Homo sapiens: one gene and its partner. The protein of the gene in region 2 purifies or fractionates together with the protein of the main gene of each other region. This does not show direct contact. Each region holds a gene or a part of one and is shown on either strand. Other genes may lie near its edges.

The links.
Region 1: the proteins of NUP210 (region 2) and NOCT purify together in Homo sapiens (affinity purification with mass spectrometry; 2 studies listed by BioGRID and IntAct, with this or other methods). This does not show direct contact.

The regions. Positions count from the first base shown.
Region 1 is NC_000004.12:139,039,679-139,047,042, forward strand, and holds the end of NOCT (nocturnin), read left to right. Parts: intron 1-3,395; coding exon 3,396-3,665; intron 3,666-4,960; coding exon 4,961-5,796; 3' UTR 5,797-6,261; downstream 6,262-7,364. UniProt on the Homo sapiens protein: Phosphatase which catalyzes the conversion of NADP(+) to NAD(+) and of NADPH to NADH. Shows a small preference for NADPH over NADP(+). Represses translation and promotes degradation of target mRNA molecules.
Region 2 is NC_000003.12:13,416,733-13,424,947, forward strand, and holds the start of NUP210 (nuclear pore membrane glycoprotein 210 precursor), read right to left. Parts: upstream 3,591-8,215; 5' UTR 3,495-3,590; coding exon 3,328-3,494; intron 1-3,327. UniProt on the Homo sapiens protein: Nucleoporin essential for nuclear pore assembly and fusion, nuclear pore spacing, as well as structural integrity.

The DNA of each region.
Region 1 (7,364 bases), on a different chromosome or scaffold from region 2:
TCTGAATTTTCTAATTCTGATTTAGGTTATTCTTTCATGTCTTGTATCTTTTTGTTTTGTTTTGTTTTGAGATGGAGTATCGCTCTATTGCCAGGCTGGAGTGGAATGGCGCCATCTCGGCTTCCTGCAACCTCCTCCTCCCGAGTTCAAGCGATTCTCCTGCCTCACCCTCGCGAGTAGCTGGGATTACAGGCGCCCAACACCATGCCTGGCTAATTTTTGCCTTTTTAGTAGAGACGGGGCTTTGCTACGTAGGCCAGGCTGATGTTGAACTCCTGACCTCAGGTGATCCGCCCGCCTCAGCCTCCCAAAGTGCTGGGATTACAGGCATGAGCCACCGCGTCCGGCCTCTTGTATCATTTTCTTTTTTTTTTTTTTTTGAGACGGAGTCTCGGTCTGTCGCCCAGGCTGGAGTGCAGTGGCGCGATCTCGGCTCACTGCAAGCTCCGCCTCCCGGGAGCCTCCTGCCTCAGCCTCCGAAGCAGCTGGGACTACAGGCGCCCGCCACCATGCCCAGCTAATTTTTTTTTTTTTGTATTTTTTAGTAGAGACGGGGTTTCACTGTGTTAGCCAAGATGGTCTCGATCTTCTGACCTCATGATGCGCCCGCCTCGGCCTCCCAAAGTGCTGGGATTACAGGCTTGAGACACCGCGCCCAGCCTTGTATCATTTTCTTAAAGACTTAGCTCACTCTGCAATAGGATGCAGTTTGATTTGCTTCCTGGGCACATTTCTGGCATGCTTTCACTGTCTGATATTGTTCTATTCTTTATTCTCTTCATGTGAAATTGATTTTTCTAAATTTTTAGAAGGAAGTGTGGTTCAGGATTGCTTTTCTGATTTCACGTACTCCTCAAACGTTTGACTCCCATTGGACATCCTTCCTTCTGCACATTCATTTTTGCATGGTAGTTTTTTCATATAACCACCCTAAAACTCAGCTTGGCAAAGATAAAATGTCATCAAAAGGAATGTAGGGCAGTCCTATTGAAACTGAGCTCTACATCAAGCCCAGAGCCTGACAGGTGTCAAACGTCACTGTTTATTTCACATTTAAAATATAAAATATACCATGGTGTCCCTGTGAGTTTGCTGTGGTTCCCTGGGACACGTTAGCTCACAATTTGGGGATCACAATCCCAGGTGATGCTGATATTGCTGATCAGGAGACCACACTTGGATGTTTGGCTGTTTTTTGTTTGTTTTCCCCAAAAAACCTACAGGAAGTAAAAAAAAAAAGTACAAGAAGAAAGACTTTCAAAACTTGTACTGCCAGCCATGAAGAAAATTTCTTCCTTTGGACCCATGTACTCATGTATTTATCAATTAAAATGAAATTATTGAAATCAGTTTGGAAACAGTTGTATATGTGTGTATTTGTGGGAGAGCATGCTTGCTTGCAGATGCACACACACCTGCTATGTTTGTTGGGAAAATTAGTATGTGTTCATTTGCTGTAGTCTAGCTTTCTTACTGGAGGGAAAAACTACTTTGAGTAGACAGGAAGGAACAAAAAAAGCATGCTTGCATCCTCATTGACCTTAATGTTCAAGGACATTTGGTGGTAAATAATTGAATTTCCTTTGTAACCTGCCACAGTGAATTTGATTGACTGCTAGTTTGAGATGTGATTGATAAGCCTGCCAAATTTTATAAAGAAAACTTTATATAATGTTTACATTTATAAAATGTTTATGTTTTATAAAGAAAACTTTGTATCTCTCAAGAGAGGGAAATCCAGATTGCCTGGTACCAGCATTTATCATACAGAGAATCTTGGATGTTACTCCCAGTAAAATGTGCCCCTAATTTATACTATAATGAAAATAAAACATAGTTGACCTCTAAAAGAGCAATCAACTGCTTTCAAGTGAACTGCCACATAATGCTAATTAGTTGAAGATTATGCTCTGTTCTCCTTAATGAATTATAAAAAGCAAAACACTAAAAATTAACTCGGGAAGACAAAGTAACTGGTGCTTCCTGCATTTTTCCTTGTTCTTTGTCTTTCTAGGATCCCAGGAAATGTGGGCAACTCATGAGAAGGTAGTGCCCTGGATGGAAGTTAGCTGAACAAAATCAGCTTACTCTAAGCCCTTCTGGCCTCAGCCCCTTTTCTGGATTTTAAGAAATCCAGCAATTGATACAAGATTATAGAGTATACCACTCAGTGAAGTTCAGAGTTCTACTACAGAAAGCCCAAGCCTTGATTTACACTTAACATCTAGGAGAAATGGGAAAGAATCTAGCCATTACTTTCCCCAACAGAGGGATCTGTATAGATGAGATGACCAGCGTAGCAAGCAGCCTGCTATTACCTAATCTCTCACCCAGGATTAACATTAACATGGGCTTTCTAACATTTCACTTTTTACAAACTAGTCTTTAAGATCTTTTTTTTTTTTTTTTTTTTGAGTCTCGCTGTGTCACCCAGGCTGGAGCTCAATAGAGTCACCTCAGCTCACTGCAACCACCATCTCCCTGGTTCAAGCAATTCGCCTGCCTCAGCCTCCTGAGTAGCTGGGATTACAGGCGCACACCACCACACCCGGCTAATTTTTTATGTTTTTGGTAGAGGCAGGGTTTCTCCATGTTGGCCAGGCTGGTCTCGAACTCCTGACCTCAAGTGATCCACCTGCCTCAGCCTCCCAAAGTACTGGGATTACAGGTGTGAGCCACCATGCCCAGCCTAGTCTTGAGGTTCTTAAGATATATAGAAAAAGGAATGTAGATTTTGTTAAGCCTTGCTCTTTTTTTAAGACTGGTTTTATAAATTACAAAGACAAATCCTAGGTTAGAAGAGGCCATCAAGATCAAAGTATTTCTTCCTTAAAAGGATGAGTTTTCATTGTTAATCAGAGGCTAGTTTTAACGGTAGTACTTAAATTAACTGTCCTAGTAGAAAGCTGGAACCTGGAAACTCCTTTATTCTGCCTCTGTAGAAATGGCTTTATACGCCGGGCGTGGTGGCTCATGCTTGTAATCCCAGCACTTTGGGAGGCCGAGGCGGGCAGATCACCTGAGGTCGGGAGTTCCAGACTAGCCTGACCAACATGGGGAAACCCCATCTCTACTGAAAATACAAAATTAGCAGCGGGTAGAGGTGCATGCCTGTAATCCCAGCTACTTGGGAGGCTGAGGCAGGAGAATTGCTTGAACCTGGGGGTGGAGGTTGCGGTGAGCCGAGATTGTGCCATTGCACTCCAGCCTGGGCAACAAGAGCGAAACTCCATCTCAAAAAAAAAAAAAAAGAAAAAAGAAATGGCTTTATACACTATTATGGCAACAATTGAGCTCCTGGTTTCGGTGGACAGTAAATGTTTATCTTACAGTTGTGCTGGGCGAGAAGTCAGGAAAAGGAGCTGAGTGTGTAACTGTGATTTCCTTTTCCGTAGTGTGTTCCATGGGAACCGGTACAAGCAGACTCTATAGTGCTCTCGCCAAGACACTGAACAGCAGCGCTGCCTCCCAGCACCCAGAGTATTTGGTGTCACCTGACCCAGAGCATCTGGAGCCCATTGATCCTAAAGAGCTTCTTGAGGAATGCAGGGCCGTCCTGCACACCCGACCTCCCCGGTTCCAGAGGGATTTTGTGGATCTGAGGACAGATTGCCCTAGTACCCACCCACCTATCAGGGTTATGCAATGGAACATCCTCGCCCAAGGTATGCTGGATGCTTTTGTGCCTCTGCAGTCAAGTTTGCTGTGACTGCCTTTCTGCTTCTGCACATCCACAGTGCACTGTTTTATGTGGAAGGAAGAGGTGTGGGCAGATGGAGGTGACTGCAGCAGCATGGAGAGCTCCTAGAAGAGGTTAAGACAGGGAATCATCTGGTTTTCACTTTTTTTTTTTTTTTAGAAAGAAAAAAGACACTTTAATTGTTCTTGGATAGTCTACAAACATGGAAGGTGTAAAGAATAAACCACGAGTTACTTGCTTTAATTGTAAAAACCAAGTCAGGTGCAGTGGCTCACACCTGTAATCCCAGCACTTTGGGAGGCCGAGGTGGGTGGATCACCTGTGGTCAGGAGTTCGAGACCAGCCTGACCAACATGGAGAAACCCCGTTTCTACTAAAAATACAAAATTAGCCGGGTGTGGTGGCGCATGCCTGTAATCCCAGCTACTCGGGAGGCTGAGGCAGGAGAATCGCTTGAACCCAGAAAGTGGTGGTTGCAGTGAGCTGAGATTGCGCCATTGCACTGCAGCCTGGGCAACAAGATCGAGGTTGCAGTGAGCTGAGATTGAGCCACTGCACTCCAGCCTGGGCAACAGAGTGAGACACTGTCTCAAAAAAATATGTATATATATATATATATATATATACACTTTGTTACAGTAGTAAGGACTTCTTTCCTGGGTCTGCCAAATTAAAAAACAGATGTGTCAATCAACTCTATGTAGCATTGCCTTTTATGTAAGCAGTTGAGATTTTAAGAAAAACAAGGGCCTGATTTTTTTTTTTCCTGGAAAATAAGGGGAGATTCCGTGACTTACCAATCTTTGATTCTTTTTCCCTAAGTAGGAAAAGCTGCCTATTTAAAATAAGTTCCATTCATTCTGAGTAGTGTCCATAATAGTCAGGGTTAAAACTAATACTTGGTGTTAAATATTTGGTGTTTAAAAAAACCAAAAAAATTTTAAAAGAAAATTGGCATTTATTTCATTTTATATAGCTTAGATCCCTGGCACTGCAAAGCAGTTTCCTTAAGTAAGATCTTAATATCCTGGAATATAGTTAACATGAAATCATTTCGAAACAAAAGATCTGTTGTTTGCTTCATCCACATAGTGAGAGGTGATTTAGTTTGGATGGGGTAATACAGTTTGGACAGAGAGCCACTCCAAGCATTTAAAGCAGAGGAAGCATTCTGAGGGTCTTGAGTGATGCCAAACCTCCTGGGTACTTTGAAGTCACGGTTTTGTAAGAGCTGACAACTGACTAGCTTTTTCTTTTCAGCTCTTGGAGAAGGCAAAGACAACTTTGTACAGTGCCCTGTTGAAGCACTCAAATGGGAAGAAAGGAAATGTCTCATCCTGGAAGAAATCCTGGCCTACCAGCCTGATATATTGTGCCTCCAAGAGGTGGACCACTATTTTGACACCTTCCAGCCACTCCTCAGTAGACTAGGCTATCAAGGCACGTTTTTCCCCAAACCCTGGTCACCTTGTCTAGATGTAGAACACAACAATGGACCAGATGGTTGTGCCTTATTTTTTCTTCAAAACCGATTCAAGCTAGTCAACAGTGCCAATATTAGGCTGACAGCCATGACATTGAAAACCAACCAGGTGGCCATTGCACAGACCCTGGAGTGCAAGGAGTCAGGCCGACAGTTCTGCATCGCTGTTACCCATCTAAAAGCACGCACTGGCTGGGAGCGGTTTCGATCAGCTCAAGGCTGTGACCTCCTTCAGAACCTGCAAAACATCACCCAAGGAGCCAAGATTCCCCTTATTGTGTGTGGGGACTTCAATGCAGAGCCAACAGAAGAGGTCTACAAACACTTTGCTTCCTCCAGCCTCAACCTGAACAGCGCCTACAAGCTGCTGAGTGCTGATGGGCAGTCAGAACCCCCATACACTACCTGGAAGATCCGGACCTCAGGGGAGTGCAGGCACACCCTGGATTACATCTGGTATTCTAAACATGCTCTAAATGTAAGGTCAGCTCTCGATCTGCTCACTGAAGAACAGATTGGACCCAACAGGTTACCTTCCTTCAATTATCCTTCAGACCACCTGTCTCTAGTGTGTGACTTCAGCTTTACTGAGGAATCTGATGGACTTTCATAAATACTTGCTTTTGTCTTTTTAATCACAGGAGTCTATTTTTTTTTTTTTTTTTTTTTTTTTGAGACAGAGTCTCGCTCTGTTGCCTAGGCTGGAGTACAGTGGCCTGATCTCGGCTCACTGCAAGATCCGCCTCCCGGGTTCATGGCATTCTCCTGCCTCAGCCTCCAGAGCAACTGGGACAACAGGCGCCCGTCACCACGCCCAGCTAATTTTTTGTATTTTTAGTAGAGACGGGGTTTCACCGTGTTAGCCAGGATGGTCTCGATCTCCTGACCTTGAATCACAAGAGTCTTAACAGGGAATGTTTCAGGAAACAAATAGGATAAGACAATGCCAGAGGAAGGATAGAAACATGGGAAGTTTCTATCATTTCATTTTCTGCGTTTCCAGCATGCCCTTGGAAAAGACTCCCTTTAGTCCCTTTTTCAATTAAAACCTATGGTGAAAAAGGCGTTTGCACTCCAATTTTGGCTTGTGTTGTTTTCTTTTCCTTAATATTACATTTTGATCATTTAAGGGCATTAAATTGGCTTGTTTTGGTCAGGTGTGGTGGCTGCTCATGCCTGTAATACCAACACATTGGGACGCCAAGGTGGGAGAATCACTTGAACCCAGGAGTTCGAGTCCAGCCTGGGCAACATGGCACGAGACCCCATCTCTATTTCTAAAATAATAATAAATTCGGTTATTTTGAAGCTTTTTCAATTTGAGGATGCTATAAAAACTTAGACTTGTTGCTTGAATCTTCCATAATAGTATGTAGGAGCAATTTCTCTAAACAGCATTTTAAGTTATTTATTTGTGGGTTTTTAAAATGTCAACAAAATGCATGGCAGTATTTATTTTTTATATCTTCATATAAAATTAAGTAAATTATAGCATTATGAACATTTTAGAACCATGCAAGAGAAGTTATAGAGAAAGTAATTTATGGTGATTTTCATAAAGCTTTAAAATATTTTCATTTGGGCTATAACAAAATGAGTACAAAGGAACTATTTAGCCTGGAGGGGCTTTTGTTATTTAAATGTCAGATTTCTTTGATACATTCTTCAAAAATAATCCTTGTCCTGCCTCTATGTTCCATTATTGTGTTTCTTTTTTTTTTTTTTGGAGACAGAGTCTCACTCTGTTGCCCAGGCTGGAGTGCAGTGGTGTAGTCTCGGCTCACTGCAAGCTCTGCCTCCCAGGTTCACACCATTCTCCTGCCTCAGCCTCCCAAGTAGCTGGGACTACAGGCGCCTGCCACCACGCCCGGCTAATTTTTTGTATTTTTAGTAGAGACGGGGTTTCACCATGTTAGTCAGGATGGTCTCAGTCTCGATCTCCTGACCTGGTGATCTGCCCGCCTTGGCCTCCCAAAGTGCTGGGATTACAGGCGTGAGCCACAGCGCCCGGCCTTATTGTGTTTCTTGAAGAGATTCCAATTAGTTTTCAATTATTTAACCAATTAGTTTTCATTATTGCTGTTATATTTAAACTTTACCATTGGAATAATATTGGTATGCGTTTGATATTAGTCACTCGATGTCATCATTATTTGTATTGGAATGTGCTATTCACAATAG
Region 2 (8,215 bases):
CCTCAGGAAGAAGCAACAGAGCAGTGCTTGGGCTTCAGTGCTAGCCAGTGTTGGCAGGGGAGGAGGTTCCCGAGGTGCCCAAATAACCAGGTTCAAGGCAATGTAAGAAAGGAGCTAGGAGAGGAAACATAAGTGACCGAAAAGAAACCAAAATGCTGCCTGTGATTGTATTACAGCTGGAAGATTATGGCATGATTTCTTTTTCGTCTGTTCTCCCAGTTTTTGATATGAGGTCGTTTTGTATATACCTTTAAAAGGAGCAAATGTAATATACTTTATGGAACACTTTCAATAATGCAAAATATCTAGAAGGAATCAGGAACTTGTCACAAAACCAGTGCTGGCTGGGTGCAGTTGGAGAGAATTAGAGCCTGGCAAATTAGCCAGAGGCTGCCAGTCCCCAGGTCTAATGGCGTGGGACAGGGAGGGGTCCCAGCAGCTCCTGCTCCAACTCAGTGTCCATCGCTACAAGACTTCCCAGAGATCACTTCCCCTTCTGGAGCTCAGGTTTTCCTATATGAAACACAGGCTGTTTAAACTAGGTGACCTCTAAGGTTCCCCTGGCCCGAAAACTGTCCAATTTTGATGTTATAAAATAAAAAAAATAGGAAAAGTAAACATGAAGCTGTTGGCTCAGGCACACACAGTGATTTCTGTAAACTTAGAGCTCAGCTGCAAATTCAATGGATGTGCAAATGTTCCCACAGGGTCTGGCAGAATTCTCATTTTCTTTTTCGTCTGAGAGACTTAACAATGAACTTTCTGGATGAAGAGGTAATGTTCCTCCCAGGTTTAGAGGACTGTGGATATATGTCTATAGGCCAGCTCTTAAAATCTCCAGAGCAGATTCTTCAAAACTGCAGCAATAGACGACTACACTAGGAACAGCAATACTAAAAATAAAGAAAATATTCTCAATGCTTGATTGACAGAATGTCTTCCTGTCAAGTTAAGGGGGAATCACAATTTCCAAACACCTCTGAGAAGACACTTTGAATAGCAGTCACACATCTGCAGTCACACATCTGCAATACAAACTACAGATCAACGCCAAACACGTTATAAGGTACTTAGCACTTCTCTGATGCATCAGAGATTAAGAATGTTTTTTCCCTTTTTCCTACCAAGTAAATTAAAATCCACCAACACCCTTCAGCTCCTCTCAGAAAAGAAAATGATGTTGGGGGGGAAAAAAGTGTTGTTAGTTTAGAAAAAGAAAAAAGTACAGCTATAGAATCTCAGAGAAAGTAACACACAAATATATCCAAAGGGATTCACTTGAAGCCAGCTGTTTTTAATAACCAGTTTCCTCTTTCTTGCCCACATACTGAGAGGACAGACAGCTTCAACAAGAGAATGAGCATGTATCCCCGCCACAGTATTGACTAACAGCTGATTTTCCCACACAAGACTAGGCCTTAGACTGGGATACAGAAAACCTAATGCCCAAGTTCAGCCTCTGGCATCAGGCCAGAAATAGGAGCCTCCAGGTGCATAAAGCACTAAAACCAAAATGCAATGGGCTGACCTAGTACGTCTTGATTTCAGGAAGGAGACCTTCAAAAAAGAAATAGGGCAGGCCGGGTGCAGTGGCTCACGCCTGTAATCCCAGCACTTTGGGAGGCAGAGGCGGCGGGATCACTTGAGGTCAGGAGTTCGAGACCAGCCTGACCAACATAGTGAAACCCCATCTTTACTAAAAATACAAAAATTGGCCAGACAAGCCAGGCATGGTGGCTCACGCCTGTAATCTCAGCATTTTGGGAAGCTGAGGCAGGTGGATCGCTTGAGGAGTTCTCCTTGGTCTTGAGGAGTTCAAGACCAGCCTGGCCAACACAGTGAATCCAGAGTTTGAGACCAGCCTGGCCAACATAGTGAAACCCCGTCTCTACTAAAATGCAAAAAACTAGCTGGGTGTTGTGGCGGGCGCCTGTAATCCCAGCTACTCGGGAGGCTGAGGCAGGAGAATCGCTTGAACCGGGGAGGCGGAAGTTGCAGTGGACAGAGATCGCGCCATTGCACTCCAGCCTGGGCAACAAGGGCTGGAGTGCACTCTAAAAACAAACAAACAAACAAACAAAATTAGCCAGGTGGCCTGCACCTGTAATCCCAGCTACGAGGCGGGAGAATCGCTTGAACCCGGGAGGTGGAGGTTGCAGTGAGCCGAAATCGCACCACTGCACGTCAGCATGGACGACAAAGCAAAACTCCGTCTCAAAAAAAAAAAAAAAAAAAAAAAAAGAAAGAAAGAAATAGGGCAAATAGTGCAAGCAACAGAGAAAGCTGGCTGGTCTGAGCTTCGGGCATCACACTTACATACACGCACAGACTAATACTCAAACAGGCTTGACACACACATGTCCAGGCTTACACACATGGCTGTCACGTGGTCACACCCCGTTCTGCCTCAACCTTGACCCAGTCTTGAAACAGAAATAAAGGGAGCAACTACTGAGCATCCTGGGGGTGGGAAGGGCGGAAGCCCATCTTTTCACCCCTAGGACGGCTGGGCTGGGAAGCTAAGGGCGCTCAGTCGTGCCCACGCAGCCTTGCCAGGGGCAGGAGCTCCATTTCCCCTGGTCTGCAAAATGGAAGGGCTGGACTGCACCGCCCTGTCAGTGTCGGTCTCTGGTTTCATGGGTCCCTGTGGTTCCACAGGGTCACACTCCGCATCCGACCCCTTGGAGAACTCCCAACCCGAGAGGGAGGGTGATGGAAATGCCCTGAGCATCAGGACCCGCGCCGAGGCAGCCTGAGGGGAAGCGCCGGCCTGCCTCGTCTCACTTCGCCTCTGTAAAGCGGCCCCTGGGCTTCCCTCCAAAACTCCTTTCCTCCAGGGTCTCCGTTCCTCCCCGCGACGCTAGGCGCTGCGCTTCGTTTCACAGACTCACTTCCCACGCCAGGGCGAGGGCGGTCACAGACAAACCCGAGCTGGGGTCCCAGACTCAAGGGAAGTGCGGCCCAGCTGCCCCGGCGCCCCCTCCCGGGTCAGGCCGGCTCGGGCCCGGCCGGCTTGGGCCCTGCGGTCCCAGACGCCGCTCCCCAGGCCACCCCTCCTCCCGCACAACCCAGAACACGCGGGTCACGGCCGCCAGGCTGCGCCCGCTCTGCTCGCGCCTCAGCGGCGCGGAGGCCCGGACGGCGCCATGACATGAGCAGTGGTGGCGACCCACGCGCACCCGCCGCTCCGAGTGCTGCAGCCTAGCGCCCAGCGAGAGCGCGCCGCGCACCTGCCGGCTCTGCCGGCCTCCCGGCGCCCGCCCAGCCTCTCAGCGCGAAGGCCCAGCCCGGCCCACGGCGCCCGCCCGGCCCGGCCGCGCGCCTCACCAGCGGTAGCAGCCCTCCGAGGCCTCCAGCGTGAAGTTAACGCGCGTGGCCCGCGTGAAGGGCAGCAGCACTTTGGGGATGTTGAGCTTGGCCGCAGCGGCGGAGGGGCCCGCCGCCAACAGCACCGACAGCGTCAGCAGCAGCAGCCCCCGGCCCCGCGCCGCCATCCTCGCCGCGCGTCACCTCCCGCGACCCTGCGCCCGGCCGCCCGCGCCGCCCCGTTGCCCTCCGCTCCCGCCCGCGCGCGCGCCAGGCCAGCAGGTGATGAGCGCGGGGGCGGGGCGAGGGCCGTCGGCGGCCGCCGCTTCCTGGGCCTGAGCGCGGGAACTCTGGGGGCCGAGCTCGCGGCGACCCCACCCCCAGCCCGGCCCTCGCGCAGGGACGCGGGGCTGGGGGATGGGCGCGCGCCCGGGCCCCCGGAGCTGAGGGAGAAGGCTTGGGGCGCGCCCGCGGGGACCCCTGGACCCTAGAAGTCCCAAGGGGGAGCCCCCGGGGCGCCCCGCAGCACGCATCCCGCCCTGGTATTTGCCCCTGGCGGTGGAGCCAAGCCGCCGGCTTTGGACCTTGCGCTCTGGCCCGGACCCACGGTCAGCAAGGAAGGGACACATGCCCCAGGACATTTGGGATGCAGAAAACCGGCGCCTGCCTTGTCCCAGCCCATGCTTCCCAGAAGAGGGACCCCGGGCTCGCAAAGGGAAGCCACCTGCTGAAGCGCTGAAGGCCCGGGGCCCGCTCCCCCTCGACCCCCTCACACCCTTTCCAGAGAGGCCTTAAGATTCCCATTTCTCCAGGAAAAAACCGGTTGAATGGCCCCCAGATCACTCAGCCAGAGAGCCCCAAGCTCTTGTCCTCCGCACTGCACCCCCTGCGGAAGCCATTAGAGGTTACCTATAGGTCATTTAGGGCGCCAACGCTGCCAGAGCACAACCCCCTCCACGGCCCCCACACCCACAAAAGAAAGTTTAGCACCGCGGAATCCACCTGCACACCAATGGAAGGCCTTAGATTCCGCGCTGTGCTCTGTGGCTTTTAGCTGTCTGTCGTGAATTGCATGAAGGCATGCGTCAGCAGGCACCTGACTGCTTGGTGCCGCTAAAATATGAATCTAGCCTTGCAGAGAAGGCCCAGCCTAGCGGGAGGTCAGGAAAGGGTGGGGTGAGGGTGCACTGGCCGGCTGTCTGAGGAGTGCAGGAAGTGGATGCTGACTGTAACCAGGAAGACACACAACGATGCCACTGGGTGACCAGGAAGGAGAGGATAAATGTCAGTAAGGCTAGGAAGGCTTTTTGGAGGCGGCGGCCCCTGGGTTGGGCATAGACACCGCACTGGGCTTCAGCGAGGCCCGCATAGGCTGAGCCTGCCCCTCAGGGATCATGGGGCTTTTGGATGGTGATGCGGGGTGTTTGGGGTCACCCTCGAAGCCTGAGGGCCCTAGACCAGGGAATGTGTGTGTTGGGGGAAATCTCTGGAGATAACCAGAACTAAGGGGGTGAGGGTCGGCCCTGTGTGGAACCAGGTGCTCTGGGAGGGGAATTCCAACGGGCTCCCTTTGAAGAAACAAAAAACAGACTTGCGCGGAAAAGGCAGCCTCAGAGGGTATTTGTGAGGAAGTCTGTGGGTGTCTTCTGGGTTGCACAAGATTGATTTGTTTTCCAACAGGTAATCCAGACAGATGGTTGAAACTTAGGCTCAAAAGGGTTCCAAGTGAAAGTGATTCCTCTCCCTCCCCATCACCCAATACCCTTCCCTACAGGCAATGAGTGTTTCCCACTTGAGTATACATCCAGAGAAATTTTATGCATAAACAAGCATATATATATATAAAACATGGCACACATGCACACACATACACATACATGCACACACATATGTATATATGAAATATGGCACATATACATACATATACATATGTCTTGCGAGGCAGGTAAATCTCACTCTTGGACATATATCCTAGAGAAATGAAAAGTGATGTTCCCACAATCACCTGTACATAAAACATTCATAGCAGCTTTATCAAATAGGCCCAAACTGGAAACAGCACAGAGGTCCTTCATGGGTGATGATTAAATACTGTGGCACATCTATGCCATGGAATATTATTCAGCAAAAAAAGAAATGAACTGCTAATACATCCATCTTGGATGAAGCTCCAGGGAATTATACGGACTGGAAAACAAACACTACAAAAGCACAAAAGGTTACATACTGTAAACTTGCTTTTATACAAGATTATTGAGTTGGCAAAATTATAGAAGTATAGAGCAGGTGAGTGATTGTGGGGTCAGGGGCGGCGTGGCATAGGAAGTGATGTGGCTATAAAAGGTCAACATGAGGAGTCCCTGGGATGGAAGTGCTTGGTGGCTTGACTGTATCAATGTCCATTTCCTGGTTGTGATATTATCCCATAGTTTTGCAAGATGTCTACTAGTGGAAACGGGGTAAAGGGCACATATTATAGCATCTCTCTTGTTATTTGTTACAACTGCATGTAATCTACAATTATCTCAAAAAAAGAATCATACAAACAGGCCCAGCAAAACACATCTGAGTGGACACAGCTTGCTAAACAACTACGTTTCAGGTGATTTAAGGCAATCAGGAAATTTTCCCAGCAGAAAACAATCCATGGAAGACAACAAAATGGGCCGGGTGCGGTGGCTGTCACCTGTAATCCCAGCACTTTGGGAGGCCAAGGTGGGCAGATCACCTGAGGTCAGGAGTTTGAGACCAGCCTGGCCAACATGGCAAAACCCTATCTCTACTAAAAATACAAAAAGTCGCCAGACATGGTGGCATGCATCTGTAATCCCAGCTACTGGGGAGGCTGAGGCAGGAGAATCACTTGAACCTGGGAGGTGGAGGTTGCAGTGAGCTGGGATCAAGCCACTGCACTACAGCATGTGCAACAAGAAACTCCATCTCAAAAAAAAAAAGGCAACAAAATGATGGGTAAAACATTTTCCATCTGAGATTTTATCCCTTTACGTTGTCCTTAAACTTGCCCCCAGACCCCATTTCACTTGCCTACAAACCTGGTATGAGATGGTATTTGGGGCCAAGCCAGGGGTCCATGTGTAGGGGCCACCCCCACCTTCTCTGTGGGCTGTTTCCACTCCCTGGCATTGGGCCCCTTCTTTGGGTGTCAGTGTTTATCTGAGATGCAGGGAGCCAGCCATGGACAATGGCCTGAGCACAGCCTTCTGTCCTGGCACAGAGACCCTCTGGGCTGGAAGAGACCACAGATTTGAGTGAGCCGGTTACCCACCTGATAACTAAAACCAGATAGGAAAATGTCTCCTGACCCACATCAGGGTCTCCCAAACTTCTGTTACTTTCTACCACCCTAAAACATTTTAAAAAATAATATCTATCTGAGTGCCACTTGTGCTGTTATTTCCTGTCTTTAAATCAAAGTGTTTACATATATTTACTTAAGAAGCAAACTTTGTCTCTTCTGTTAATAAAAAGCCATTATCAGTTTGCAAAATATAATAGAAGTAGCCATAAAATAAATACAGCGAAACAAAAGAATGCCTTCAAATTACCGCAGGATACTATTTCTTGCTAAAGGCTGAGAGCCCAAGGCCTGCTCTCAGGGCCTTCAGTGGGAAGATAACCAAACACAAGACAGTGTGAAGGACAAACCACACTAATCTTGACCTTTCTCCTTGGGCATACAAGTATGGAGAGATTTTTCAAGGCAATTAACTTTTTCCTAGGGGGACGTTGTCCTTTTAGAGCCTACCCACCATCTTTTTGTGACAACAGTAATTTTTATTTGTATTTCATTTATTTATTTATTTTTGAGACAGGGTCTCTCACTCTGTCACCCAGGCTGGAGTGCAGTGGTGCAATCTCAGCTCACCACAGCCTCTACCTCCTGGGCTCCAGCCATCCTCCCATCTCAACCTCCTGAGTAACTGGGATTATAGGTGTGTGCCACCACATCCAGCTAATTTTTGCTTTTTGTTTTGTTTTGTTTTGTTTGTAGAGACAGGGTTTCGCCATGTTGCCCTGGCTGGTCTCGAACTCCTGGACTCAAAGGATCTGTGCCCCTTGGCCTCCCAAAGTGCTGGGATTACAGCCATGAGCCACTGTGCCCAGCCCAAACAGTAATTTTAAAGAATCATTCTGCAGTGGGGAAACTTAAAGAGTCATAGAGTAGACAGTGGTATAATGAAGCCCCATGACTGTCCAGTTCTGTGGCCACAATCCACAGCCAATTCTGCTGCTTCTGCAGTCACCACAGGCCCCACCCTATCTCATTTTGAAACAAATCCAAGATATCCTGTCATTTCGTCTGTATTTCAGTTTGTATCGCTAAGAGATAAGGACCCTTTTATAGACATAACCACAATACTATTATCACACATAAAAAAGTTAACAGTAATCTTATGGTCATAAAATATTATTAGAGTTCAAATTTCCAACTGTCTCATACATTCATAATACCTTTTTACAGTTTATACTTTCAGAATCAGGATATAAGTAAAGTTCACACATTGCAATTGATTGAAATGTCTTTTAAGGCTCTTTCAATCTATAGGCTTCCTTCCCCATTTCTCCTTTTCTCCCTGAATTTAAATGTTGCCCTTTGACCTCTGGAGTAGACATTTGTGTTTTCAGACACCCCCAAGCTGAGTCCCCACTAGCCTGGGCCCTACTGCAGCAGCAATGGGGGTTTCCGCCTCTCACAAGTCTGCCCCCAGGCTTTGGTCATGGACTCTGGAAATGGAGGAAAGGGACACCCACTGTGGACCTTCAGCACCACCTCTGAGCTGGAAACCTTGGCTTTGGGCAAAACAAAAAAGAAGTAAAACACCAGGAGCACTGGAATGGCTTCCACCTTTGCAAAGTGCTTTCCAAAACCCCATCATACTTAAGAGAA